Homo sapiens: one gene and its partners. The protein of the gene in region 1 interacts with the protein of each later gene in a pairwise test. Each region holds a gene or a part of one and is shown in the gene's direction. Other genes may lie near its edges. The genes, in order: CDC25C, LMTK2, ROR2, YWHAB and ERBB4.

What was found.
Region 2: the proteins of CDC25C (region 1) and LMTK2 interact in a two-hybrid assay, tested with the Homo sapiens proteins (one study listed by BioGRID and IntAct).
Region 3: the proteins of CDC25C (region 1) and ROR2 interact in a two-hybrid assay, tested with the Homo sapiens proteins (one study listed by BioGRID and IntAct).
Region 4: the proteins of CDC25C (region 1) and YWHAB interact in binary tests that used the Homo sapiens proteins (3 or more experiments, as listed by UniProt).
Region 5: the proteins of CDC25C (region 1) and ERBB4 interact in a two-hybrid assay, tested with the Homo sapiens proteins (one study listed by BioGRID and IntAct).

Annotation. Positions count from the first base shown.
Region 1 is NC_000005.10:138,289,608-138,295,489, reverse strand, and holds part of CDC25C (M-phase inducer phosphatase 3), read left to right. Parts: intron 1-3,373; coding exon 3,374-3,520; intron 3,521-4,749; coding exon 4,750-4,851; intron 4,852-5,882. UniProt on the Homo sapiens protein: Functions as a dosage-dependent inducer in mitotic control. Tyrosine protein phosphatase required for progression of the cell cycle. When phosphorylated, highly effective in activating G2 cells into prophase.
Region 2 is NC_000007.14:98,112,622-98,118,503, forward strand, and holds part of LMTK2 (serine/threonine-protein kinase LMTK2 precursor), read left to right. Parts: intron 1-5,882. UniProt on the Homo sapiens protein: Phosphorylates PPP1C, phosphorylase b and CFTR.
Region 3 is NC_000009.12:91,729,225-91,735,106, reverse strand, and holds part of ROR2 (tyrosine-protein kinase transmembrane receptor ROR2 isoform 1 precursor), read left to right. Parts: intron 1-1,670; coding exon 1,671-1,985; intron 1,986-3,951; coding exon 3,952-4,197; intron 4,198-5,882. UniProt on the Homo sapiens protein: Tyrosine-protein kinase receptor which may be involved in the early formation of the chondrocytes. It seems to be required for cartilage and growth plate development. Phosphorylates YWHAB, leading to induction of osteogenesis and bone formation.
Region 4 is NC_000020.11:44,890,576-44,896,457, forward strand, and holds part of YWHAB (14-3-3 protein beta/alpha), read left to right. Parts: intron 1-5,882. UniProt on the Homo sapiens protein: Adapter protein implicated in the regulation of a large spectrum of both general and specialized signaling pathways. Binds to a large number of partners, usually by recognition of a phosphoserine or phosphothreonine motif.
Region 5 is NC_000002.12:211,383,478-211,389,359, reverse strand, and holds part of ERBB4 (receptor tyrosine-protein kinase erbB-4 isoform JM-a/CYT-1 precursor), read left to right. Parts: intron 1-1,367; coding exon 1,368-1,415; intron 1,416-2,209; coding exon 2,210-2,507; intron 2,508-5,299; coding exon 5,300-5,745; 3' UTR 5,746-5,882. UniProt on the Homo sapiens protein: Tyrosine-protein kinase that plays an essential role as cell surface receptor for neuregulins and EGF family members and regulates development of the heart, the central nervous system and the mammary gland, gene transcription, cell proliferation, differentiation, migration and apoptosis.

The DNA of each region.
Region 1 (5,882 bases):
AGGTGCACGCTACCATATCTGGCTAATTATTGTATTTTTTGTAGAGACAAGGTTTCACCATGTTGCCCAAGCTGGTTTTGAACTACTGGACTCAAGCGATTTGGACTCACCTTGGCCTCTCAAAGTGTTGGGATTACAGGTGTGAGCTACCATGCCTGGCCGCTGAAGTAGCTGTTTCTGTTTGCGAAAGTAGTTTTCTGCTATCATTTATTTTTGACATCTTGTCCTTGGACTATATGCAGATGTTAATCACCTTAATTATCACTATATTAGCTACCAGAAACCTAAAACATTGAAACAAGGGAATAGAGATTTGAGAAATAGACCTATGCATATATGTAACTGGTAATTCAGCCAAGATACAAAATAATCAAATGGAGAAAGTACAGTCTTTTTAACAAATTGTGCTGGAGCAATTGGAAATCCATACGTTAAAAGATAAAAGTACTTTAACCCATACCGTACATCATATATTAAAATTAACACAAAATGGATCATAGCTCCAAATCTAAAACCTTAAACCATAAAGCATCTGAAGAAAGGCCTGGCACAGTGGCTCATGCCTGTAATCCCAGCACTTTGGGAGGCCGAGGCTGGTGGATCACCTGAGGTCAGGAGTTCGAGATCAGCCTGACCAACATGGTGAAACCCCATCTCTACTAAAAATAGGAAAATTAGCTGAGCGGGGCCAGGCGCGGTGGCTCATGCCTGTAATCCCAGCACTTTGGAGGGCCGAGGCGGGCAGATCATGAGGTCAGAAGATCGAGACCATCCTGGCTAAGATGGTGAAACCCCATCTCTACTAAAAATACAAAAAATTAGCTGGGCATGGTGGCGGGCGCCTGTAGTCCCAGCTACTCAGGAGGCTGAGGGAGGAGAATGGCATGAACCCGGGAGGCAGAGCTTGCAGTGCGCTGAGGTCGCGCCACTGCACTCCAGCCTGGGTGACAGAGCAAGACTCTGTCTCAAAAAAAAAAAAAAAAAAAAAAATTAGCTGAGTGGTTGGGCACGGTGGCTCACACTTGTAATCCCAGAACTTTGGGAGGCTGAGGTGGATGGATCACGAGGTCAGGAGTTCGACACCAGCCTGACCAACACGGTGAAACCCCGTCTCTACTAAAAATACAAAAGTTAGCTGGGCATGGTGGCAGGCACCTGTAATCCCAGCTACTCGGGAGGCCGAGGCAGGAGAATTGCTGAAACCTGGGAGGTAGAGGTTGCAATGAGCCGAGATCGTGCCACTGCACTCTAGCCTGGGTGACAGAGCTAGACTCCATCTCAAAAAAAAAAAAAAAATTAGCCAAGCATGGTAGTCAGCACCTGTAATGCCAGCTACTCCAGAGGCTGAGGCAAGGAGAATCACTTGAACCTGGGAGGCGGAGGTTGCAATGAGCCGAGATCATGCCATTGCACCCCAGCCTGGGCGACAGAGTGAGACTCTGTCTCAAAAAAAAAAAAAAAAAAATCCAAAGAAAACGGAGACAATTTTTGTGACCTTGAGTTGGCAAAAATTTATTAGATACAATGCTTAAAAATGGATACAGACTGGGCGTGGTGGCTCATGCCTGTAAACCCAGCACTTTGGTAGGCCAAGGCGGATGGATCACTTAAGCCCGGGAGTTCGAGACCAGCCTGGACAACATGGTAAAACCCTCTCTCTATAAAAAATACAGAAATTGGCTGGGCATGGTGATGCGCATCTGTAGTCCCAGTTACTCAGGAGGCTGAGTTGGGAGGATCGCTTGAGCCTGAGAGGCAGAGGTTGCAGTGAGCTAAGATTGTGCCACTGCACTCCAACCAGAGTGACAGCGAGACCCTATCTCAAAAAAAAAAAAAAAAAGATAAGTTTCAATTAGCTAATTAATTCCAAACTCTTAGTAATATGGCTCTTAGCATAATTATTATGGTGTGTTCTAGAGAAGCCCCTTTTGAAATCCTCATCTAGCTTTCCCCTGCCTTCTCAGGGGAAAATTGAAGTTATATGAAGTCCTGTCTGTCATGGAGACCAGGCACCCTACTCCTCAGTGCCTCACCATATCTCCTTTCCTACCCTACCTTTGGTTGATCCATTCATGCATCACTGGCTTCGTGGCCTTGACTGTATCTCTTGGCTTCTTCCTTTTGGGCTTTGGCTTCTGCTACTGCCTAATTATTTCTCCATCTTCCAAGTTAGGCAACCAAGAGAGGGAACCTGATTGGCCTAGATTATTTTTGCTTATTCTAGACCACTAAATAGATGTGTTCAACCAGCAATATGGTCCAGTCATCAGTGTCTGGGGGGTAGGGTGGATGGGGACATAGGGCGATGTTTGGAAGGAGTCTAAGGGTACGTATAATGTGGACGGTACCATCAGCTGGTATCACGAACAAGAGGTAGGACCATGTGTGTGATAAACAACATAATATCCATAGCTGTCATAAAGCAAAATGTTGTTATTCTTATTTCGTTCTTCCAGAAACCATTGATCATCAAGCTGCCTTCCAGTTATGGCTCTCTTATTGTATAGCCCCCCTCCTAAATCAGTCCATAACAGGTAGTGCGATAAGTGTTTAGAGAAGGAGCTTTTGCCTGTTCTCTAGGTGAGAGGTAGAGATCTCAAAGTATGTGGCAACAGAGGATAGAATTGTGGATTAGTTGGAAGGTGTTATCAGAGGTCATTTGATAGACCCTCAACTCTGAATATAGCACCCAAACCATGCCTTTCAAATAAACAACAGTCTATCCTCTTATACTTTAATCTGTTCCTGTGTAAGCAATTCTCAAGGCTAGTTCTTCATGACGTTTGAGCCACTTTTTTTTCCCTGATGGGTTTCATAGTATCCATCCTATAATGGTCAGCATGCTATTTGATTTTAGTGTGTCCTTTTTTCTTGCATGATGCTTCTTTTGCTATTTTTCTTCTTGGCTTTTCATCTTTAGGTTTGTTGAGGTCCTTAAATCCTGATTGTCAATGTCCTAGGATCCCAGAGACAAAATGGACTTATGTTTTTTTTTTTTTTTTTTTTTTTGGTCACATAACTGGAGGGACTGAGCTTGTGTTTGCTTTCTGTTAGAAGAACTGGTGCATCTAAGACAGTCAGCTGCAGAATTTGGTTTGGCTAGTTAAGACGTCCATGGAGATGGAATATCATGCAGTCCAGGTAGAAAGATATTAACGGGCCTATGAAGACAGGTTGCCTACCCAAGGCTTCTCAAACTTGAGAAATCACCTGGGCATCTTGTTAAAATGCAGATTTTAATTCAGTAGGTTTGGGGTGTGGCCTAACATCTGGAAACCTGCATTTCAAAGAAGCTCCCAGGAGATGTTGTTGCTGCAGGTCTGCAGACACACTTGGAGGAGTAAGAACTAGGGGGTTTAATATTCCCAAACAGGTGAGCAGAAGTGGCCTATATCGCTCCCCGTCGATGCCAGAGAACTTGAACAGGCCAAGACTGAAGCAGGTGGAAAAATTCAAGGACAACACAATACCAGATAAAGTTAAAAAAAAGTATTTTTCTGGCCAAGGAAAGCTCAGGAAGGTAAGAACTTTTTAAGATGAAAATCTTGTTCATCTTCTATCTCATGTCTTTGCTTTTCTGGTATGAGGATTGTTTTATTATGCCTTTTTTGTCTTCTTCCTCTTTACTTTTACTTTTTCCTCTTTGTTCTTTCCATCTTTCTGTCTTTTCTACATCTGTATCCACGTGAAATATATATATATATATAAAATATTTATATAACATAGATACATAAAGTATATCTATATTGTACTTTTAGAAATGTTGTCATAGGCCGGGTGCAGTGGCTCACGCCTATAATCCTAGCACTTTGGGAGGCCGAGGCGGGCGGATTGCCTGAGCTCAGGAGTTCAAGACCAGACTGGGCAACACGGTGAAACCCCGTCTCTACTAAAATACAAGAAATCAGCTGGGCGTGGCAGCATGTGCCTGTAGTCCCGGCTACTCAGGAGGCTGAGGCAGGAGAATCGCTTGAACCCGGGAGGTGGAGGTTGCAGTGAGCCAAGATTGTGCCACTGCACTCCAGCCTGGGCAACAGAGCAAGACTCCGTCTCAAAAAAAAAAAAAAAAAGAGAAATGTTGTCATCATACCGTCTTCCCAACCCTTTTTCTTAAGATCTGAAAGAATACAAGGGAACTTTGGTATGGATATTTTACTGCTGTTTTACATGCAGTCTGACAGAAACAACATCATATAGCAGGTTGGTTTTGTGGAAAGCAACTTCTGAAAAACTTAGCCTTTGTCCTTTACCCTCCCCAACTTTAAAAAAATTAAATAGATGGGAGGATCACTTAAGGTCAGAAGTTCAAGACCAGCCTGGTCAATATAGCATGACCCCATCTCTAATAAAAAAAAATAAAATAAAAAATTAAAATTCTAAAATCTTTGGATATTTTATAAAATCAACTTATTTATTTATTTATTTATTTTCCCCTGAGATGGGGTCTCACTCTGTCACCCAGGCTGGATTGCAGTGGCATGGTCTTGACTCACTGCAGCCTCAATATTTATTTATTATTAAAAATAATAAATAAACAAATGGAGTCTCACTCTGTCTCCCAGACTGGAGTGCAGTGGTGCAATCGTAGCTCACTATAGCCTTGGCCTCCTGGGCTCAAGTGATCTCCCTACCTCAGCCTCCCATGTAGCTAGGATTACAGATGTGCGCCACCATGGCCCACTCCATCCACTGGTTTTTAAACCTTTAACATGAGGATTGGGTGTGGGGTGGGAATCTTGTCATCTTCAGGGCTTATGTTTAAAGAAGACAGTCTCTCTGTGTGACATTACTATCACTCAGATGCTGGAGGAAGATTCTAACCAGGGGCACCTGATTGGTGATTTTTCCAAGGTGAGTTTGGCTACACCCATCCTGTATTTCAGTGAGTCATTTTGGATCTGAATCTTCTCTGTTTGCCGAGAATGCCTGGTGTAAATATGCATCCTCACCAAGTACTCTTTGGTAACCTGACAGTGCTCTAGTGGTAGATCCAGGCCCTAAGCCTTTCCAGAGAGAAAGTATTTCTTATTCTTCTGGGAAGATCCAGAACAGGGGAAAGTATGAGACTTTTTACCTTTTTTCTGTTTAAAAACATATTTTAAAATTATGTAAATAATACTTGGTTGTTACAGAAAAAGTAGAAAATGAAGAAATTTATCCCAAACTTTATTAACCAGGGTAATATTGCTTAGTATATACTCTTTTTTTCCCCCCTACTGTCTGTGTAATTGCAGAAGGTACATATTCTTACAGATTTTTTTCTGTGTTTTCACAAACACATATACAAATACAGTTTTTGCTTTTCTACAAAAACAGTTTATATTGTTTTGTTATCTGTTGTTTTTCCTCTCATTTAATAATTATATCAGGGGCATCTTTTTTCATATTAATAAGCAGTTATGCTTCATTCTTTCTTTTTTTAAGATTCAAGGTCTTGATCTGTTGCCCAGGCTGGAGTACATTGGCATGATCATAGCTCACTTCAGCCTCGAGCTCCTGGCCTCAAGAAATCCTCTCTCTCCTTGGCTTCCCAAAGCACTGAGGTTACAGGCATGAGCCACCATGCCCAGCCCATTTCATTTTAATAGCTCCATATTATTTCTTTTTTTTTTTTTTTTGGCTGCTCATAATTTCTTCATAAATCCCTTCTTGTAAGATATTTGGTTTTACAATTTTTTCTTATGAATGATACCAAGATGAATATATTTGTAGAGAAATCTAAAACTTCGTACACATCCTTGATTTGTTCTTTAGGATCAGTTCTTAGAAATGGACTTGATGTATATGCACTTTATAGAGACACTGATTTTTTTGAAGGCCTCTGGGGTTTTAAGGGTCACTTGGAAAGAAGGACAAAATAAGGGTCTTTGATCTCAAACTTG
Region 2 (5,882 bases), on another chromosome or scaffold:
AGGCAGGTACAGTGCCCAGTCCTTGGTTAGGACATGTAAGGCCAGCTGTGATTATAATTATGATCATGATCCTGATTCTTCGTGAACTCCCAAATCTAGGCCCATTACAAGGGTGAGGGAAGTGAGAAGAGGGCTTTGAAAAAAGAAAGAAGAAAAGACAAAATAATTGTGGAGTTTTTGCTGGTGAAGAGATGAGAACTGAGGTAGCACAACCTCAGCTCCCCACTGCAGAACAGAAGAAAGAGACTTCAGGGAAAAACAGTCTTGCTCTGTCACTCAGGCTGGAGTGCAATGGCACAATCACAGCTCACTGTAGCCTCAAACTCCCAGGCTCAAGCAATCCTCCTGCCTCAGCCTCCTGAGTAGGTGTGTGTCACCTACAGACACTTACCTGTAGGTGTGTGACTACAGGTGTGTGCCACCATGCCCACTTTATTTTTTTGTAGAGATGGTGATATGGTTTGGCTGTTTCCTCACCCAATTCTTATCTTGAATTGTAGTTCCCGTAATCCCCATATGTCGTGTGAGGAACCCCATGGGAGATAGTTGAATCATGGGGGTGGTTACCCCCATGCTATTCTTGTGATAGTGAATGAGTTCTCACAAGATCTGATGGTTTTGTAAGGACTTTTCCCCCTTTGCTTGGCACTTCTCTCTCCTGCTGCCATGTGACGAAGGACATGTTTGCTTCCCCTTCCACCGTGTTTATAAGTTTCCTGAGGCCTCCCCAGCCATGTGGAACTGTGAGTCAATTAAACCTCTTTCCTTGATAAATTACCCAGTCTTGAGCGATTCTTTATAGCACTGTAAGAATGGACTAATACAGCTGGCGTCTCACTGTGTTGCCCAGGCTGGTCTCAAATTCCTGGCCTCAAGTGATCCTCCTGCCTCAGTCTCCAAAAGTGGTAGGATTATAGGTGTGAGCCACCGCACCTGGCCCTTTCTCATTTAAAATCATGTGCTTTTATAGTCGACTAGCAGTGCTTTATTACTGTTTTAAAACTTTGTATTTACTAAAATGAGGGAAGGAATATTCTCGGAGGAGATGCTGGACAACCATCTCTGATCTAGAAGACTGCTCCCTCTAGGGATTTTAGATTCCATTATCAGCTTTTCTTTGAATCTTCTTATGAAGATACTGTTGCAGAAAACTGGGGAAGTTATGGTAAAATTAGCATGTCTGCAGAGCAAAATATTGGATTGATGTCTTTTAAAATTGTAGCAAGTGGCTAATTCGGAGCCCTGCCTTGGCATTACAATTGTTTGTCACAAAGAGCAGGCATATCAGAAAAGTAACCTCATTATTAAATTCTTTTTTTTTTTTTTGCAAAAGTTAGCTCAGTGCAGTGATTCCAAATGTCATTTATTGTATTGTGATTCAGGTGGGAAAAGTGAGCACTATTTATGCCAGATGTCTCAGGTACCCGCAGCCACAGCATTGATCAGTATCTTTCATTTTCTCTGCCTTTTTTTCCTTCCCCAACCACAAAAGAGTGACTCTGTATTCCTCTGCCCACCTGGGCCTTTGGTAGGAGGGGGTGGTGGTGGTAAACCTTCTGTTTAATTTTTGACAATTTGGTAGGTAGGTTTTGCATTTTATTATATGTGTTTTTTTAAAGTTTTTTTTTTTTTTTTTTGAGACAGGGTCTTGTTCTGTCACTCAGGCTGGAATGCAGTGGTGCAGTCATATTCACTGCAGTCTCTACTTCTTGGGCTAAAACGATCCTCCCACCTCAGCCTCCTGAATAGCTGGGACTACAGGTGGATACCACCATGCCTGACTGATGTAAAACATATTTTTTCTATAGAGATGGGATCTCACTATATTGCCCAGGCTGGTCTCAAACTCCTGGACTCAAGTGATCCTCCCACCTCAGCCTCCCAAAGTGCTGGGATTACAGGCATGAGCCACTGCACCTGGGTAGTTTTAATATTTTAAAAGGCTTGAGTTACCATCAGGTCAAATTAGGTGTGCAGGACCTTGTGCTATGGCTAAAGTAGCCCCTGTCTCCCTGCATCTGGTGAAGGGAGACGGTCGCATCGGGGTGTCTGCTGCAGCGCATCTGTTGTTGTTCCTGCCTCCACCCTCCACAGCACTTTTTTCAGAGCTAACTTGATCTGCCTATCGCTTGCAAAATATTCCATGCAAATTCCCATCTTCTGGCTCTCCATATATTCTCCCTGTTTGCAATTGCCTCTTTTCCTGCTTCTGTAAGTGCTGCCATCTTTTTATTTTTTTTAAAACCTCTTTGCGGACCCACCTTCCCTACTGAGTTATTGATCCTGGCCCAGCCCTTAGAGATTCCTTCCCTTGGTGAACTTGAGAGTGTATACCTGTGGAGCAAGATGTTTCATGGGGTGCCAGACGAAAACATTGGAACTGATGTTTATTCTCATTTCATCCTCTTAAAAGGTCAACTTATGTGATGTTTTAAGGTATAGAATGTGTGGTACACTAACACATTTTTTGATTTATAAATGACATGGGACGGAAAGAACATAAAATGTACTGCCTGGGTACAGTGGCTCATGCCTGTAATCCCAGCACGGTGGGAGGTCGAGGTGGGTGGATCACGTGAGGTCAGGAGTTCAAGACCAGCCTGGACAACACGGAGAAACCCCGTCTATACTAAAAAACACAAAAATTAGCTGGGTATGGTGGCACACTCCTAAAGTCTCAGCTACTCAGGAGGCTGAGGCAGGAGAGTCGCTTGAACCCAGGAGGCAGAGGTTGCAGTGAGCCGAGATCATGCCATTGCACACCAGCCTGGGCGACAGAGCGAGACTCAAAGAAAGAGAAAAAGAAAGAAGAAAGAAAGAGAAGAAAAAAAGAAAAGAAGGAAGGGAGGGCGGGAGAGAGGAGAGAGAAATTACTGCTGGCTGAAATCAAGAAAGGTTTGGTTTTGGGCCGGGTGCTGTGGCTCACACCTGTAATCTCAGCACTTTGGGAGGCCGAGGCGGGCGGGTCACGAGGTCAAGAGATTGAGACCATCCTGGCCAACATGGTGAAACCCCGTCTCTACTAAAAAGTCAGCTGAGTGTGGTGGCGGGCACTTATAGTCCCAGCTACTCAGGAGGCTGAGGTTGAACCCGGGAGGCGGAGGTTGCAGTGAGCTGAGATCGCACCACTGTGCCCAGGCCTAGTGACAGAGCAAGACTCCATCTCAAAAAAAGCAAAAAAAGAAAGGTTTGGTTTCATCATACCAGTCTACTACTTGCACTTAATAAATACCAAATACCACTTTATATCTTCATATCATTGGTTTTTTGTTTGTTTGTTTAAGAGACAAAGTCTTGCTCTGTTGCCCAGGCTGGAGTGCAGTGAACTGTCATGGTTTACTGCATCCCTGAACTCCTAGGCTCAAGCAGTCCTCCCATGTCAGCTCCTGAGTAGCTGGGACTATAGGCGCATGTAACCATGCTTGGCCAATTTTTACTTTTTGTAGAGATGGTCTACAAAAGTAAAGTTGCCATGTTGCCCAGGCTGGTCTCAAACTCCTGGCCTCAAGCAGTCCTCTGGCTTCGGCCTCCCACGGTGTTGGGATTATAGGTGTGAGCCACAGTGTCCGGCCTACATCATTGTTTAAGTCCTGTCTCTTTACCTAGTTTGCAAGGACCGTGTCTTATATCCTTGGGATAGCACATTTTTGGGATTGGTGTTTGGATGGTATGTCACAGGTTGTAGATGCTCTGTCAGCATTTGTAACTGAGGATGATGAAGATGATACTAGAGAACTAAGTTCTCCAAACCAGTACCTCAGTGTGTGTCTGTGTGTGTGTGTGTGCATGTGCGTGTGTTTGTGCGTGTGTGTGTGTGTTTGTGTCCGCGTGTGTGTGTGTGAAGGAGAGGGTATGAGCTGAAGCCTCTCATTCTCTTGCGGACTTGACTTCCCATGCAGCCACAGACCTTCACCTGGGATGAGGCCATTTATAGTTTTTTTTTTATTAAAACCTTTTTCTTTCACAACAATTTTAGATTTACAGAAACATTGCAAAGATAGTACAGAGTGTTCCTGTGTATCTTTTACCCAGTCCCTGTTGTTAACATCCTATATTAATGTAGTACATTTGTCACAACTAAGGAACAAGTATTAATATATTGCTATTAAATAAGTCCACAGCTTGTTCAGTTTCTTTAATATTTCTCTAGTGTCTTTTTTTCTCTTCCAGGAAACCACATTACATTTAGTAGTTATGCCCCTTGGGCTCCCCCAGTCCATTCCTTGTTTAGAGTGACCTGGACAGCTTTGAGGAGTACTGACTGGTCAGATATTTTGTAGAATGTCCCTCAACTGGGATTTGTCTGATGTTTTTCTCACGATTAGACTGGGGGTGTGGGTTTCTGGGAGGAAGACCACAGAGTTAAAGTGCCATTCTCATCACATCACATCAAGGGTGTGTGCACACAACATCACACAGCATGACTTGTCACTTGATCACCTGGCTGAGTAGTGTTTGTCAGCTTTCACCCTGTAAAGTTACTCTGTCCTCCCCTCCCCATGGTGTACGAGTGCAGGGTCAACACTTAATGAGTGGCAAGCTGTGCTCCACCTCTTTGCAAGGAAGTGTCTGTAGACATTCTTTGGAGTTCTGTTGAAGAGACTCGCGTATTCTCTTCTTTTCTTTTTTTCTTCCTCTTCCCCTTCCCTTTCCTTGACAGGTCTTGCTCTGTAGTCCAAACTGGAGTGCAGTAGCACAGTCATGACTCACTGCAGCCTTGAACTCCCGGGCCCATGCGATCCTCTGTTTATTTCTTTATTCAAGCATTTACTTATGTCAGTGTGGATGCATGGATATTTATTTTATACTTCGAGTTGATTCCACAGTGTTGTTTATTTGTTCTTACATTGTACCAGCTTTGGCCATCGAGAGCTCTTTCAGTTAGCTCCTGGGTGCCCCGCTGACATATCCTCATTTTTTTTTTAAGCATTTCCTTATTTTCTGGCATTTCAAGAAGCTACAGGTTCATCTTGTATATTCCCTGCCCCAGTCCTAGAATCAGCCTTTTCTTCAAGGAGCTCTGGTTCCTCTGATTGGAGAGTGATATGAGAAACCAAGATCTGGGCCAGGCGCAGTGGCTCATGCCTGTAATCCCAGCACTTTGGGAGGCCGAGGTGGGCGGATCACTTGAGGTCAGGAGTTCAAGACTAGCCTGACCAACGTGGTAAAACCTCGTCTCTACTAACAATACAAAAATTAGCCAGGTGTGGTGGTGTGCGCCTGTAATCCCAGCTACTCGGGAGGTTGAGGCAGGAGAATCACTTGAACCCAGGAGATGGAAGTTGCAATGAGCCGAGATCGGACCACTGCACTCCAGCCTGGGTGACAGAGTGAGATTGTCTCAAAAAAAACCAAACAAACAAAAAAAACAAGATCTGGGTGCTGGGTTTGCTCATTGCTTCTGGGCATTTTTAATAGATTTTTGATCCTCTGCTTCCTGTACCTAATCTTTGGGGTTGTGGGGAGGGGAGGAGAGAGCAACTTTGGGACCTCTTAGAGACAGATGAGCTGGAAGGACTCTGTCCATGTTTTCTCCCTGTCACTTAAACTATTAAATACCACCATAAACATTCTAAATACCATGTTTGTGGTACTAACTGCATTATAATGATATTGGCAGAATCTTATTTTTCTTTTTAGAGTAATAAATATATGAAAAATAGATTCGATTTACCTCCTCCAAGAGCAGCTTAATCTCTGAGAATATGAACGAAACCTCTTTGGCTTAAGAATTTAGTTAGAGAGGATTATTTTGGGGGGTCTTTCAGTGTTGGAATTGCTGAAAAGGTTTATAGGCAACTCCTTGAATTGGTAAAAGTTCAGATGAAATTTCTACTGGCGAGTCTCTTGAAGAGCATGGGGCTGTAGACTTGCTTTGATCT
Region 3 (5,882 bases), on another chromosome or scaffold:
CCTATCAGTGGATTAGCCCAAGAGAAGTGACAGCTTTGGCATTCTTAGACAATCTTTCCCTGCCTGGAGGTCAAGGCCTACCTACATTTTTGACAGCCATCCATATAATCCCAAATCTGTAATGATGGGATTGAACAGGGTTGAAGCCTCAGTTCTTCCTCCAAATCCAAGACATCCTGTACTGTAACTGCTTGCCCTCTCTGTTCCTCCATTTAAATATCGGCCACAGGAACCCAGAGGAGGGGAGGTGATGTGATGAGCACAGTAGTGCCTGCACACAATCAGGACAGCGTGGCTGCTCCCGCCCACTGACGCCGCCTTTTACCAGACCCCTGGGCCCATTCACGCTGAGGGCCACTTTATAGGCTCTGTGTGCACTCTCATTCCCCAGTGTGGGGTCTCAAATCACTCTTCAGGTACAGAAACAGGCCCGGAAAGGCATGAGTGATACCACAAAGTGATCACGCACAAGGCTGTTCCCACACAGCTGCCCATCCCGTTCCTGGGTGGGTTCCCAGGGAATGACTGACAGCGGCACTGCCACCTGCTGGCCAAACCTGGCACAGCACTTACACGCTTTCCTTGCCTGGAGGTCAAGGCCAGCATTCTTGACAGCCCTCTGTATAATCACCAAATAATCGCCAAATCTGTAATGATGGGATTGAACTGCATTCGTGGGTGGAGTTAGGGCTCCTCAGGGACTAAATGCCAGCTTCTGGGTTTTCTGCCACGCTGGAGGACACAGCCTCTGCTGGGTGTGCAGGCAAAGGGGCCTGTCTGCCTCCACTGTCCCCAAGCTCAATTGTTGTAAGCCAGCCTTTCACAGGTGAAAATGGGGTAGTGAGCCCAGGGCAGGCTGATGCATTCCTTAGAGCCCTGCCTTGGCCAGCTTCTTCACCCTTACCAGTGTCCAGCCATGCACCCCAGGTGCAGCAGATCTCTCCCCAACACCCCCACTTTGTTCCCGAACTCACCCCATCTTCTAACCACCAAACTGCATCCTCTGACATCTTGCCCTTAAAAAACAAACCGCCCTACCAAAGGGGGCTCTGGATCTTCGGGTTTTTCTGCTCCCCCTTATCACAGAACCTTCCAGAGTTGTAACGCGGCTCTCCTCCCACTTTGCTGCTCTCACCCTCTTGGCTTTCCGCATTTTACCAACTGTCTCCTCCAGCTGCAGTTCACAGAGCTGAGCTGACTCCCTCTTCCGGGACAGCCTTCTCCCCAGACAGATCTGGGACATTGGGAAGCCTGGGGCTCGGTACTGCACTTCTTGGCCTGCGCTCTCCACACATGGCGGGTCCTTAGGATCTGCTTTTGCATCTGAAGTCTGAACCCTCTTGTCCTGGAAGAAGCACCTAGCGGAGTGAGCTAGGGGGCCGAGTTTTCCTTCTTTCTTGTTCTGCTTCTGATGTTTCTAAGTGAGGCCCTGGGACCAGGGACTTTTCTGTGACTGCTGCAAATCAGAGCAGGTGATGGGCAGGCTGGCCTGCTGGTGGGGAGCCTCTCCAGGGTGGTGTGCGGGGCTCGGGGTTGGGGAGTCTGGGGCGGGGCGGGGCATCAGGGGGCTGAGTGGGCAGTCTGGGATGCCAGGCTGGGGGTGGGGACTGGATGAATGTCAAGGGCGCAAGGTGGGTCCCCCGCTAACGCGAGTCTCGCGGGCTCTGCAGCGGCCTTCACCATGATCGGCACGTCTACGCACCTGTCGGACCAGTGCTCACAGTTCGCCATCCCATCCTTCTGCCACTTCGTGTTTCCTCTGTGCGACGCGCGCTCCCGGACACCCAAGCCGCGTGAGCTGTGCCGCGACGAGTGCGAGGTGCTGGAGAGCGACCTGTGCCGCCAGGAGTACACCATCGCCCGCTCCAACCCGCTCATCCTCATGCGGCTTCAGCTGCCCAAGTGTGAGGCGCTGCCCATGCCTGAGAGCCCCGACGCTGCCAACTGCATGCGCATTGGCATCCCAGCCGAGAGGCTGGGCCGCTGTGAGTGCCCGAGGGCCCGGGGCGGGACCGGGGGGCGCAGGGAGTGTAGGGCCCTTGAAATGTGTATGGGGGTGTCGGTGAAGCCCAGGGAGCCCCATCTGTCCAGGCCCCACAGAACCCCCTTAGCAGCCGAGGGCCCCACAGCCTAGGCCTCCATTCCAGCAGGGCAGCAGGCGGGGCCTCGGATCAGGGGCTTTGGAGCCATTCAGCCCCAGGCTCGCATGTGGGCTTGCACTGTGTCCAGCTGTGGGACTCAGGTGAAGTCCCTCCACCTGCTTGAGCCTGGGATTTCCCTTCTCTGAAATGGGAGTGATCTCACTTCCTGTGGAAATGGCTGTTGCGGGCATGAGAGGAGACAGGGCCAGCTTCCTAACTTGCCCGACGGTCAGCACGCACTCGGGCCGCCAGGCGAAAATGCAGACTCTCAACTCCTGCCCCAACCTCCTGAAACCTGGAGGATCAGTCCCCAGAAACCTGTAGGATCCTTAGCCTTGGATGAATGTGAGGCCCACGGAGATGCTGCAGGACTGGCCTGGGAGGGCACCTGAGAAGAACCTGTAACAATCAGGCATCACTAGGGAAGGAAATACAGGGAAGCACCGTGCACCTTTCTACAGGTCCCTGAATCGTGGGGCCTAAGGGATGAGCGTGGGGGAGGGGGACAGTTCTGAGCCCGGGGCCTGGGTGTGGCCTGTTTGGGGTCTGCACAGGACGAAGAGCATGCTCCCCACTGCCCCTCTTGCTGGCAGCAGCCCCTGCCCTCTGGAGGCTTAGTAAACCCCAAGTTGTGAGCCCCAGCAGGGTGGCCATGGCCAGTCAGGATGGCAGACACAGGACAGGGAGCGCTGCTTATGTCTCCGAGGAAAACCATTGGCTGACATCACTGCATCCATACGGGTTGTTGCCTCCCTGAGGAGTGAGACCTAGGGAACGGGCCACCTCCGCCACAGCTCCGGGGCTGTATTTAGCATCGTTGGCTAATCTGGGGGTCCAGGAATGGCCAGGACTCCTTACCAGGACCAGCCAGGGCCTGGTCCTTGGGCCCGTTGCCTGCATTCAGACCCTCATTGTGACCCTGGACAAGTTGCTAAGCTCTCATATCCTTATATTCCGTGGGGATGACACCAGTACTAACCCGTGGGGCTGAAATGAAGGTCAAATGAGGCAATATTTAGGAAGGTGGTTTTTTTGTTTGTTTTGTTTTTTTGAGACAGAGTCTCACTCTGTCACTGAGGCTGGAGTGCAGTGGCATAATCTTGGCTCACTGCAACCTCCACCTCTCAGGTTCGAGCGATTCCCCTGCCTCAGCCTCCTGAGTAGCTGGGACTACAGGCGTGCGTTACCACATCTGGCTAATTTTTGTATTTTTAGCAGGGACGGAGTTTCACCATGTTGGCCAGGCTGGTCTTGAACTCCTGACCTCAAGTGATCCACCCGCCTTGTTAGCCACGGTGCCCCAGCCAGGAGGGTTTAGAGCAGCGCCCCACACATGGTAAACACTACAGAAATGTTCACCAAATGCACACCCCAACCCCAGGGTTCCTCCATGGAGGTGGCGTGGCCTGCACTGTTCTCACCCATGGCTGAGCAGGGTGTCCTGAGATGGAGGGGCCAGGCCCTTCTTGCTTGCACAGTTGGCTTTCTTCCTAGAGCAAGTTGATCCTGAGGCTGGGGAGACATCCCCATTCTGGTGGGGTGGTGGTGTGCAGGTGCCTCGTGGGTCCCAAGAGATGGTTCTGGGGCTGTGGAATAACTTTAGACAAGTTTCCTTCCCCATGCCTATCCCTGATGTGCCCTGCATTTAATTTGTGGGCTTGGGACTTCATTAAGCCATTACTTTTAATGCCTCTTTTCTGGTAAGTTATGTAAAATCCTTGGATCTTTTGGAAATTCTAGTTTGGGCATGTGTAGGCAGAATGGTTTTGTTGTACCCCGGAGGTTTTCCTAACGTGTTTTCCTTGTTCAGACCATCAGTGCTATAACGGCTCAGGCATGGATTACAGAGGAACGGCAAGCACCACCAAGTCAGGCCACCAGTGCCAGCCGTGGGCCCTGCAGCACCCCCACAGCCACCACCTGTCCAGCACAGACTTCCCTGAGCTTGGAGGGGGGCACGCCTACTGCCGGAACCCCGGAGGCCAGATGGAGGGCCCCTGGTGCTTTACGCAGAATAAAAACGTACGCATGGAACTGTGTGACGTACCCTCGTGTAGTATGTATTCTCTCTCTCTTTTTTTAATGTGTTGATTGTTGAGTGAACCTTGTGATGAGGGCGTTCTGTCCTGACCTGGGTTGGGGTGTGCCTCTGTACGGTGGCGACCAGAGACCCCTGATCTTACCACAGTGACCATTTTAAATAAAGCTGTTGGGCCACGCGTAGTGGCTGATGCCTATAATCCCAGCACTTTGGGAGGCCGAGGTGGGCAGATCACTTGAGGTCAGGAGTTCAAGACCAGCCTGGTCAACATGGTGAAACCCCATAAAAATACAAAAATTAGCCAGGTGCGGTGGCACATGCCTGTAATCCCAGCTACTCAAGAGACTGAGGCAGGAGAATCACTTGAGCCTGGGAAGCGGAGGTTGCAGTGAGCCAAGATTGTGACACTGCACTCCAGCATGGACAGCAGAGTGAGACCCTGTCTCAAAAATAAATAAATAAATAACGCAAGTTATTGGTTGTTATGAAAGTAACATCTGACCATTACAAGACATTTTAAAATATAGAAAAGTCTGAAGAGTAATGTCAGATCACCCCTAATGTTACCACCCAGTAGTGACTTGTTTGCGTTTTGGCCCACCCCCTTCCATCAGCCCTTTTCCCATGTATGGATGGTCCTGGGATATTCACTTTGACATTTTGTTTCTCCATTAACATTATCTCCCAGTGCGGTGGCTCACAACCTGTAATCCCAGTACTTTGGGAGGCCAAGACGGGTGGATCTCTTGAACCCAGGAGCTTGAAACCAGTCTGAGCAACATGGCAAAAACCCGTCTCTACAAAAAATACAAAAATTGTCCAGGCGTGGTGGCACACCTACTTGGGTGGTGGAGGTGGGAGGATTGCTTGAGCCCAGTAGTTCAAGGCTGCAGTGAGCCATCATGGTGCCACTACGCTCCAGTCTAGGCAACAAAACAAGACCTTTTCTCAAAAACAAAAAACAAAAAACACCATTATTGCTCAGTAGTTCCTAATATTCGTAAAAATATTTCCCTTCCACCCACCAGCTTTTGAGCTTTTCACTGCTTCTCAGATTTTACACTTAGGTTTGGTGGAGTGAGGCGAAAATAGAATTCATTGCTTGTCCTCATTCCTTGCAAGTGTGTCTGTAATGTCATGAATATGGAAGCTCACGTGGCTGATGGTTGACAGCTTCGACAGTTCTCACCTCTGTCTTAGTCATGCCCGGTTCACCAGTCCAGGCAGCAGGGTAACCAAGGCTGGGCTGGGAGCTGGAAGCAGCAATTGGTGAATGAGTGGGCACCCGCGGATAAAGAGAGAGCAGCCGGTGAAGCGAGGCTGGGCTCACCATGCACCTGGAGATCTCCTCCTGGGGTGCAGGCCCGCGTGTCTCTACTCCGAAGTGCAGGAAATAAACACTGGCACTAATGACCTTCCTGATGTGTGATTCAGCAGCTCCAGATTTGGCATTGCCTCTGGCTCAGCAGATCAGACACAAATCTTCAAGAATGTGTTCATTATGGGAGAACAAATTTTAAGAATGAAATTATCAGTCATTCAAATTGCGGTCTAGGCACTCTGGAGCACTCCAGACCTTAAAGCTGTCCTGCAATGAAGGATGGCCCTGTGCCCTGTAAGGAACAAAAGCAGGTTGTAGGACAGAACTGTGTTAGAGGTGCTTTTTTGCTTATTGTTTTGTTTCTGGCAAAAGGAAAATG
Region 4 (5,882 bases), on another chromosome or scaffold:
TCTTGGCTCACTGCAACCTCTGAAGCCCGGGTTCAAGCAATTCTCCTGCCTCAGCCTCCTGAGTAGCTGGGATTACAGGCGCCTGCCACTGCGCCCAGCTAATTTTTGTATTTTTAGTAGAGACAGGGTTTCGCCATCTTGGCCAGGCTGGTCTTGAACTCCTGACCTTGCGATCCACCTGCCTCGGCCTCCCAAAGTGCTGGGATTACAGGCGTGAGCCACCACGCCTGGCTGGATTCCTACTTTAAGCTCACAATCCGGTGTGGGAGCCAGCAGAGACACTTGCATTGCAGTAAACTGTGATAAGGGCCATTTTAGAAATAAGCATAGGGAAATTGTTATGTGCCTTTCTTTTAAAAGTCTTTAAAGAAAGCAGAGTACGTGTAAAATAAATGAGGTACATAGTAAGTTTCCCTTCACTGGCTGACCATTGGTTTTTTAAGTTTTGTGTGGAATGTACTGTGGTTGCCATTTATTTGAGTGCTTACTGTTTTATATCATAAACAGGTTTACTCCTTACAGGAACCCTAGTAAGTAGATTTGCCTATGTTTTTTTTTTTCTTCACAGAGTCTTGCTCTGTCGCCTAGGCTGGAGTGCAGTGGCGTGATCTCAGCTCACTGCAGCCTCTGCCTTCAGGCTGCCTCAGCCTCCCAATTAGCTGGGATTACAGGCGCCTGCCACTATACCCGGCTAATTTTTTTATATATTTAGTAGAGACGGGGTTTCACCATGTTGGCCAGGCTGGTCTTGAACTCCTGACCTCAAGTGATCACCCTCCTCGGCCTCCCAGAGTGCTGGGATTACAGGCGTGAGCCACCACGCCCAGCCCAGATTTGCCTGTATTATGGATGAGAAAACAAATTCACAGAGGTCACATAGCCTGTGGACTTGGTGTGCGGTACTGGTAAATCAGACTGATAGGCTTCATTATGTCAGTGGGCCCCAAACTGTAGAAATTATTCATAAGGTCAACCAATTGGGCTGTCTTTATGGATCAGAATTAACATAGTGTCTTTTGGATTGATTACTTAAGCCAAGAAGTCAATTTATTGTCATATCTACCATTAAGTCACATGTGTAACCTTGCGCCTGTCACTTAACACCCTCAGTAAGTTTAATCATGGCTAATTGGACATAATTAGCAATGATATGCAACAGCTGATGTGAAAGAGGGAAGGGATTTTGAAATAATAGAAATGCAGTTTCTCTCCAAATTCAGTGTTCACTGGACTTAGTGCTAATGACTTTGTATTACAGATATGCTGTGTTTTGTTTCCTAACAAAGAACCTGCAAATGTTTGAATGGAATTAAATTTATTACAGGACTCTAAATTTTATATGTAGAATGGCACACAGACAGTTTTATAGTGGGTGTTTTTTAGTGAGTAGTTTTCTCTGAGAGCCAGGAGTGTTTAACTTTTTCTGGGTAACACCCACTAACCACCTGGTCCCACTGACTTTCTCAGTCCCTTCTGCAGTAGCTTGGCATCTGATTTTTCTTCAGCAGAGAGACTCCAGAACTAAAACTTCTGCTGTACAGTGCTGTGGATGCTCTATCTGGAATGGTACATCTGTGAATGCTGTTCAGAATATGTGATCAGTTCCTTACCCCATTGAAACATTCGAGCCTAGATTTTTCAGATTTTCTTGTCAGTTTTCTTCCTTATTCTCATTTCTTTATCTGCTTTGGCCTTTGATTTTTATCTCATCTAGAAAAACATACATGCACTTTATTAATAACATCTCTTTTTAAGTCACGACCTAGCTACCTTTAAACCTATTTCCTCTAGTTCTGTCTGGTTGGCTTTCTAAGGAGAGGCATTGTAACCCTTAAACGTGTGCTGTTTTTTTTTTTAATTGATGTGTAATAGATATACATGTGCTCTTTTCTTGTGTTTCTACCACTAGAGTTTAAGCTCTCTGAGGGGAGGACTACACTGCTTTCTTTTAAATTCCTCTCAATGAATAATCCAAAGAGTTCTTAGAAATTTGGTAGTTTTTCATTTTGTTAGTTATTTCAACACACATTGGATTATATGTGTTACATTTTTGTGAGGTAGCTTAAGAATAAAAAATAAGAATGGCTTATGAGCCTTTACTCTAACCAGCACTATATGGGCATTTTATGTTCATTATCTTATTTGATAGCTATTAATGTCTCTTTTTAACACTGAGAAAACAGATTCAGGTAAGTTATAATGTGGAAATGTAGAAAAATCACCTACTTTCTCTTTAGAAGCTCAGATGTGTATGTAAGGCTTGCTAAAAGCAGACCCCACCGTATATTTTATATGTATAGAGCTTGGGTAATTCCTGACATATAATAATGGAGTCTTCATCTGAAATTTCTAACAAATTATTAAATTCAAAGCTTATTATTTTCGAATCGAGCATGTTCTTTGCCTTGAAAACAAAACATAGCTGAAAGCCAGTGCTTCTAAAGGCCACAGCTGTCATTTTCAACCCTTTCTGTCTTTGCACTGCCTTTATTTAAAAAAAAATGGATTAGCAGTAGGTAGTCTTCTTTTTCTTTTCTTTCTTTCTTTTTTGATTCTTCTCCTAGGATATCTGCTCTAGCCACTGGGAAATAACTTCTCAGTATTTTGACCCTGACTAGAAAGATGTCCCTTGGGGAAGGAATTGGGATAGAGGGGCTAGGCTGTTTCCTAGATCCTCTATTTTCAGCATTTATTATCTGATTTAGGATTTTGTTTCTTTGAAGAAAATCCTATTTTGTGAGTACCTTTAGAATTATTTTTCATAGCTGTTTATCTGCACTAGTGGTTTCTCTTTAAACAGAAAAACACTTTTTTTCTTAAAAAAAGAAATAGTACCCAATTTTTAAAAAAGTAATACATACTTGAAGAAAATTTAAAAAGATAGGAAAATGAGGATATAATAATGTTATTACCCAGAGACAGAACCAGTGTTAACCATTTGGTGTAACCTTTCTGTTCGGGTTTGTTTGTTCTTTAGGGGATATTTTACAGAAATAAAATATTGTGCAGCCTCGTCCCTCCAGCCCCCATTGCTCTTAAATAAATCTTTTCATGACATTAAATCTCTTCTTTTGATGGCCACGTAATCTTGTACCATCTATCTCCTTCCCTCCCCTGCCTTTTTTTTTTTTTTTTTTTTTGAGACGGAGTTTCGCTCTTGTCGCCCAGGCTGGAGTGTAGTGGCGCAGTTTCGGCTCACTGCAACCTCCACCTCCTGGGTTCAAGTGATTATCCTGCCTCAGCCTCCCGAGTAGCTGGGATTACAGTCATACACCACCCCGGCTAATTTTTTTGTATTTTTAGTAGAAACGGGGTTTCACCACATTGGCCACGCTGGTCTCGAACTCCTGACTTCAGGTGATCTGCCTGCCTTGGCCTCCCAAAGTGCTGGGATTACACACGTAAGCCAGTGCACCTGGCCAGTCTCCTTATTTTTTAAACCATTCCCATATTGTTGGATATTTAGATTTGCTTCCATTTTTTCACTAAGCAATCTCTGCGTTTATCAACAAATGCTTCCCAGTCCTGACTTGCTGCATCCAGTGGCTTAGAACAGATTGACAGCCATCATCATCATATAGGTGTGCTGGAGAGCTCCTGTTCTCAAGCACGTCAGTCTCTTCCTGAAATATGCCCAGCACAAGGAAAATCTCTTGGCTTACTGCAGGGTTGGGCCTTTTGTGGCCTCTAATGAGTTTGCCTGCGCCAGTATCTTGATGCTTCTGCAGTGGTGCCAGGCCTGACGATGAGACTATAGTCTTTCAAAAACTTTTTAGGAGACAAATAAAGAGTATCTTGCTGACTTTTTTTTTAGTGGGAACCTCATTCAAAGTCTTGGAACAACAGTAGGTCTTGATTAAAAACCATCATGGCATATCACTAGAAAATTCAATTAGAAACTAATGGATAAACTTCAGTTACATTTAACATATATGTCCATTTTAACATAACATACTAACTATCTGTACAAGATTAATCTAGACTTTTGCTTTTCCTTCTCACAAAATTGTATATTTAAAAAGAAAATTCAAGCTTATGGTTTTATGGGCTGCTACAGTGTAATAGTCGTGGAGAAGAATAATAGTACTTCAGTTTGATTTTGCACTATGCATTTTTCAAGGAAGATTTCCACATTTAGTATTCTTTAATTCCCTGCGCCTCATCTTCACAGCAACTCTACTGAGGTAGATGCCATCTTCATTTTATGGATTGGAAGGCTGAGATTTAACATGCTCACATGGCTGTATAGTGGCACATTGCGCTGTGACACACAGTCCTGCTGCCTTCCGACTATACTACATATAGGTACTCTGTGTTCCTTGTGCTCTCCCAATAATGATTTGTAGAAAAACTTGATATTCATTTGCATATGAGTTTTGTGCTTAGCACAGTTATAAGCATTAAATGTGAAACAAACATGAAGCTTTCCTTTGAGGGCACACACGTGAAGCTGTAAGTGGTACAGTACTCATCTGTATCACAGAATGGCATAAAGAAGTCCTAGACCATGTAATAGGCTATAAGTATATTCAGAGTCATAGGCAAGGTAAATCAGTGAGGGCTAGGGCAGTCAGGGAAGGGTTTGTAGCCCTAGAAGAATGGGTGGAGTTCAGATAGGCAGGCAGTAAATAGGAGAGCACTCTAGATGAAGGGAACTACAAAAGCAGTTTCAGACACGTTTGAGCATTGTGTTTATAGGGCATGTGGTGCTGGCCAGCCTGAGAGAAAGGTACATGTTGGAGAACAGTGGATGAGAAAGCCAAACAAGTAAAGAGGAGACAATTTATCAGGAATTTGAAAGCCAGGTAGAGCTTAAATTTGATGGAGTAGCCAAAAGGGAGTCATTGGAAGTTACTGAGTAAGGACAAAGGCAAGACTAGAGGTAATTTAGGAAGAGTAATTTTTTGTTTGTTTTGAGACAGGGTGTCTGTCACCCAGGCTGGAGTGCAGTGATGCAGTCATGGCTCAGTGCATCCCTGGCCTCCTAGCCTCAAGCGATTCTCCCATCTCAGCCTCCCAAGTAGCTGGGACCACAGGCATGAGCCACCACACCTGGCTAATATTTTATTTTTTGTAGAGACAAGGTCTTACTATGTTGCCCAGGCTGGTCTTGAACTCCTGGTCTCAAGCGATGCTCCAGCTTTGGCCTCCAAAAGCACTGGGATTATAGATTGATCTGCCATGCCTGACTGGAAGAGTGAATTACTCTTTGAATTTCAGAGGGCACAGAAATTCAAGAAACTAGGTACAAATGTAATGAAGATTTAATATGCTTGTGAGGCTAATAGGTGCTTTGAATTATTTGAGAAAAGGGAGAACTCTACCAACTCTGCAGTTTTATGCTTACATTTCAGGATCAGTTTGTTCATTCAGCAGATATTTGTTCCTACCAATTATGTACAGGATGCTGTGGGAGATATGTCCAAAGGAGCTTATGGTGTAGGAAGGGAAATAGGAGACACTATGTAAGTAATTTTAGTACTGAAGAAACGTGGTAAGACATTGACAGGTATCAGCGAAATGCTTTGTGAGAATATATTCATTAGAGCAATGCCGTCCCATAGGAATAGAATATAAGCCACATGTAATTTAAATTTTTCTGGTAGCTGCATTTAAAAATTTTTTTAAAGTGAAATTGATTCTATCTGTTTTTACTTAACCCATTATGAACAAAATATGATTTCAATATGTGGCACTAGCCACATTTTAAGTGAATAGCCACATGTAGCTATGGCTATGGCTTAAACAGCTTAAGAAAGGCTTCATGGAAGGGATGGTATCTGAGCCACACTGTGAAGAATCTTGTATGCAGAGTAAATTTGGGAAAAGCCATTCCAGGTAGAGGGAGTGGCTTGGTGAGCAAAGATAGAAAAGCATACTTT
Region 5 (5,882 bases), on another chromosome or scaffold:
TGACCTGGAATAATATTTATCTGTTTCATTTAAAAGATGTAAAGTATCTGTAATCCCAGCACTTTGAGAGGCCGAGGCAGGCGGATCACCAGGTCAGGAGATTGAGACTATCCTGGCTAACATGGTGAAACCCCGTCTCTACTAAAAATACAAAAAATTATCCAGGCGTGGTGGCAGGTGCCTGTAGTCCCAGCTACTCGGGAGGCTGAGGAAAGGGAATGGCGTGAACCCGGGAGGCGGAGCTTGCAGTGAGCCGAGATTGCACCACTGCACTCCAGCCTGGGTGACAGAGCGAGACTTCATCTCAAACAAACAAACAAACAAACAAACAAGATGTAAGGTATCTTAGAGGTTTATTTTAGTCATCTCTGTTTACTTAAAGCTGGATCGCAGAGAATATAAGCTTCATAAAATCAAGCGATTTGGGTCTGTGTTTTGCATTATCCCTGTGCCTAGAAAAGTGCCTGGCACATAGACAGTAGGTTCTCAAAAAATGTGTTTAATGTATTTTTGTATTAAGAAACAGAATTAGTATTATACAACTCCTTTTCCTTACCCTAAGGAACACTGTCCTTCATCTTTTATTAGATTTTTATATCCTCTTTCAGTTAGCCCATAGGATGGAGCGTTAAGCTATAAAAATACAGATGTATTTTTGTTGTTGTTTCTTTAACTGAAATCTGATTTTGACTCATTATAAATACCATAAGGGGAATCTAAAGCATGTTTTCAGGAAAGGAATTGATTTTCCAAATTTTCTGCTCTTTCTTAACTTAAAAAAAAAAAACAAAAAAAATGTGAGACTGAAGATAAAATAGCATATACCTTTTAATCAGGAGAGACTAAGGAGTTTACCTTTTGCTGAAGTGGTGAAAAATAAATGTAGCTTGATAGCAAAAATTAGTCCAGGCAAATCGAAATCTCCTGCCATCTCCTTCCAGAAACATTTATTCTAAGAGAAAAAATAACAGCAGACAATATGGCCATTTCAATCTTTTGACATGTAAAGAAGGAAACTGTTTCCCATTTACAGCTATAGTTCATTTACTACTTTTCCTTTCCTCTAGGGTTAATCAGAAGAATGTTTATTATTTACTTTTCTAATCCATTGAAAAATTTTGCTTTTTCTGTACAATTTTCCTTTTCAGGGATTGAATTAAAATATTTATTTTCCTCAAAACATATAAATAAGCTTGCTTATGGTCAGAATGCATACAATTGTGCTGCTTAGGAAGCTTCACTGTTGTGCACTTTTTCCCCTTTGGTTCATACGACCCATGTGGCTTTTCTTTTTCGTTTCTTTTTTTAATTTTTTCATTCATATTGCCTCTTATTATATCCATCATTCCATTTTTCTTTCCTATTAGAGTGAAATTGGACACAGCCCTCCTCCTGCCTACACCCCCATGTCAGGAGTAAGTATTTCACAATCAACCTTCATCTTTTAGGATTTTCGGTCTTTGCTTACCATGTTTCCTCTCTCGTCTCTGCATAATTTCCTCATTTTGCCTTTGCCAACAGTGAGTTAAGAATTTGGTGTACATCGTGTAGCTGCCTTTGTAGATGTGTTTTTATCTCAGCTGATAATCCGAAATTGAGATATCATGCATCAACAGTAGCTTTCAATTTTTATCTGAAGGATTTACCTGGGCACATAAATTATGCTTCTGGATGTGGAGGTGATCTTTACTTCCCTGATTATTGGTCATGTACTAAAAAGTCAGAATTATAGTGATGATCCTCTAGTTAGGTACTAGAGCCTCAAATTCATAATAACCACAGAATTTTCGAAGGGAATAAAGACATAGGATTATTCAAAATATATCCATGTACTTCTATTCTTAATGACAACTGTCTATAATTAATGACACTTGCATTTATCATAAAAATTCACTTTGAAATTTGTATTAAATATAGGCACTTGTGGGAAAAGGGCATCAAATACATTTTATTAGAATATGTTTCAGTTGGTTAATAAAACTAGAATGTGTATTTCAAAATTATTTTCTGATGATTTATCTTTTAAGAAAAGTGGAAATTTTAGGTGTTTATAGTTTGTAACTCCATTAGCCACTAGGGGAAAAAAAACCAGTAAATACTATGACTATTCTCTGAAAGACTGGCTTTGATATCCTTGTGGCTATTAACATTCATTTTTAAACTATTTCTAACAACGCCTTCTCTCCACATATGTTTCTCTTATTAACAGAACCAGTTTGTATACCGAGATGGAGGTTTTGCTGCTGAACAAGGAGTGTCTGTGCCCTACAGAGCCCCAACTAGCACAATTCCAGAAGCTCCTGTGGCACAGGGTGCTACTGCTGAGATTTTTGATGACTCCTGCTGTAATGGCACCCTACGCAAGCCAGTGGCACCCCATGTCCAAGAGGACAGTAGCACCCAGAGGTACAGTGCTGACCCCACCGTGTTTGCCCCAGAACGGAGCCCACGAGGAGAGCTGGATGAGGAAGGTTACATGACTCCTATGCGAGACAAACCCAAACAAGGTATGAACTGATTATTCAGAAACGATCGCCATTCGAAGTTCACTTCCATCAAGATAAACAAAGTACAGAATAGAAATTGCCAGATAGCTGACCAGCACAACATTTGTGATCCAGTAAAGGCCTAGGCTACTGCTACTTGTAGTATGGTCCCTGAATCAGCAGCATCCACATTATTTATTATTATTTATATAAATCAGAATCTCAGGCAGGCCCCGTCTGAATAGGAATCTGGATTTTAACAAGATCCCCAGGCTATCTGCATACAGCAATCAGTCTTGAGAAGCACTATTCTAAACATATTTTGTTGAAATATTTGAATGAAGTAGCATACTACAAAGTGTCAGGACCATAGCTTTATTGGACTTAATTGCGGAGATCAGAAAGACTGGTATTGTTGGCAAAAGTGCCTGATGCTTTTGATGGCACTAATAAAAGATTTGTTTGACTCATTTAAATGATGACATTTAAACAACCTAGTTTATTATAGGAAAATATTATGTTCTTATATGACGTTTTTCAAAAATTAAAGGTTTGACCCTGTATATACTTACAAGCATACCACCAAGATTTGAAAATAATAATCTGTGGTTTTACAAAGCATAACAATAATTTTGTAAAGTTAGTAGTAGAAATGTTAAGCACCCAAATCAAATAATGCTTCAATTTTGCAACAAAACAGCCTTTCTTCTTCTATGCTAACAGTATCACAACAGAGAAGATAGATGATTGTTATTAAAAAATGATGATCATGTCTCTCGCAGTCTTTAGTGTCAACAGTAAACTACATTTTAAGACTCTGAGAAGGGCCTGGTATATGGTTATGTTCTCTCCTTTAAAGTAAAATTTAGAGATCTCTAATTGTAAATAACCTTTTAAAATATATCTGTCTAGATAAAATTTTTACATATCTAAAACTTCTATACATATAAAAATGTAATGAAGAGTTTGGATGCTCATAGTAGCCTAGTAATGACACAAATGTAGACGTTGTGAAGACTTGGCAGATTCACCCCAAAGAAGAATCTTTTCTGGGGAGATTTTCACTCCAACCGTAAAGTTATTGGACAGCTATATAAGTTTGCATGAGGACAATATATAAGTAGATTGCATTGAGGAAAGGTAAGGTGAAGAGAAAAGCAAGTCACCCTATAGAGTCACACTGTATTCTCAGATTTTATCTCTGAACACTAAGCTCCGTTTCTATAAAAGGTTGCTATAGTCTAACCTCGTACTCAGAGAGTACAGAATTTTAGTGTAGACATTCCTATTCTTTCAATTAAGAAGTTTAAGGAATCTGGTAAGAGAGACCAAATTCTGCATTCCTTATAAATGTTTTCATACACTTGTCAAATTAAAACTTGTTACTAAGCATAAAGTTCACCCAACTCCTGCAGGGGCAATAATAAAAAACAGTGCAGTAGAATAAGAAGATTATGCAAGAGGAGTTAGAAGACCTGAATTCTATCCCAACACTAATTGTATCCTGCACACATCATTTAATCTCATTTTTCTGTCTACAAAGCTGGAAAAATAAGTCTTGTACTTCTTTTTCACAGAATTGGGAGGATGAAATGATAGTGTCTTGTAAAGGCCTATATATGATAGTGGGATATTCATTACTGCCCTTTAAGTTGAATAAATGATGCTAAATACTTACCTATTCTGTATATATATATTTGGAGAAAAATAATCCTCACTTAATAGGATTTTTCTCTCTACTTATTGGGCTAAGGATAAAAGACAGAAAGTTTGTTTCAGAATGGCCTCTCAACAAAGAATTGTGCCCTCTTCATGCCTTGAATTCAAAATAGGAATAGCTTAGGGCTTTGTGTATATAGTAAAAGAGAGGACTGTCAGAGGACTTACAATACATGCGTGTTTATGTCTATGTGCAGTCTATATTATAGACATAGATGTGGAATTAAGCTTCAGGAGAATGGTGATAATTATTAGCACCTTTTAGGCCAATACCTATACTAGATGGATTTATTAGATTGATCCGTACAAAATAGGCACTAATTGACTGGTTTCAATATACAAAATTTATTTTATTTTATATAATTCAAGCTGATAGTTTGCTACTTTGTGATTATGATTGGTCAATGGAAATATTATAATTATACTTTACTATTAAGTAGAAGTATATGTAATGTCAAGCAGGTCAACTAGAGGCATGTTAGCTATCTGTTAGATTTGCTTTTTTAGTTGAATTTTTTTCCTTTGATGCTTTCTTTTCCATGTGTAAAACCTTTTTCAGAAGCATCTCCAATTAAATCCTTGTTACCAGTATAGGCAATCATAGCAAACCATAGAGACTAAAAAACATGATTTCTTCACTCCATCTATTCATCTTGGCATGGAACTCAGCTATAGATTCTTGTTTTTTCAATATCCTTTATAGAAGTTAAGTTGTCTGTATATTTAAAGACTATTTAATCCTAATAGGTAGTCTTATTTCCTAATATAAATAACTTTTAGAAAACAAAAACATTGAAACAACCAGCCCCATATGCAGAAGAGACAAATGCAATTAGAAAGAAAGAAAAATTTAGGAGATAGAAATTCTGATTCTGGCCTCGTTGGCTTCTTGTTTTATTATAAACATTTTTGACCCACTTACTCTTTTTTTCATAAGACAATGGTGATCCACAAATACTTGTTGTGAGAAATCATGAAAACAAATCTGTGGGTTTTTTTGTTCTAGACAAAGAAGCTAACCATTATGTATAACCTTGGTCTGATTAATATTTTCCAGAAACTAGAGGTTAGCTGATATTTTTTTATTCCTTTAGAATACCTGAATCCAGTGGAGGAGAACCCTTTTGTTTCTCGGAGAAAAAATGGAGACCTTCAAGCATTGGATAATCCCGAATATCACAATGCATCCAATGGTCCACCCAAGGCCGAGGATGAGTATGTGAATGAGCCACTGTACCTCAACACCTTTGCCAACACCTTGGGAAAAGCTGAGTACCTGAAGAACAACATACTGTCAATGCCAGAGAAGGCCAAGAAAGCGTTTGACAACCCTGACTACTGGAACCACAGCCTGCCACCTCGGAGCACCCTTCAGCACCCAGACTACCTGCAGGAGTACAGCACAAAATATTTTTATAAACAGAATGGGCGGATCCGGCCTATTGTGGCAGAGAATCCTGAATACCTCTCTGAGTTCTCCCTGAAGCCAGGCACTGTGCTGCCGCCTCCACCTTACAGACACCGGAATACTGTGGTGTAAGCTCAGTTGTGGTTTTTTAGGTGGAGAGACACACCTGCTCCAATTTCCCCACCCCCCTCTCTTTCTCTGGTGGTCTTCCTTCTACCCCAAGGCCAGTAGTTTTGACACTTCCCAGTGGAAGATACAGAGATGCAATG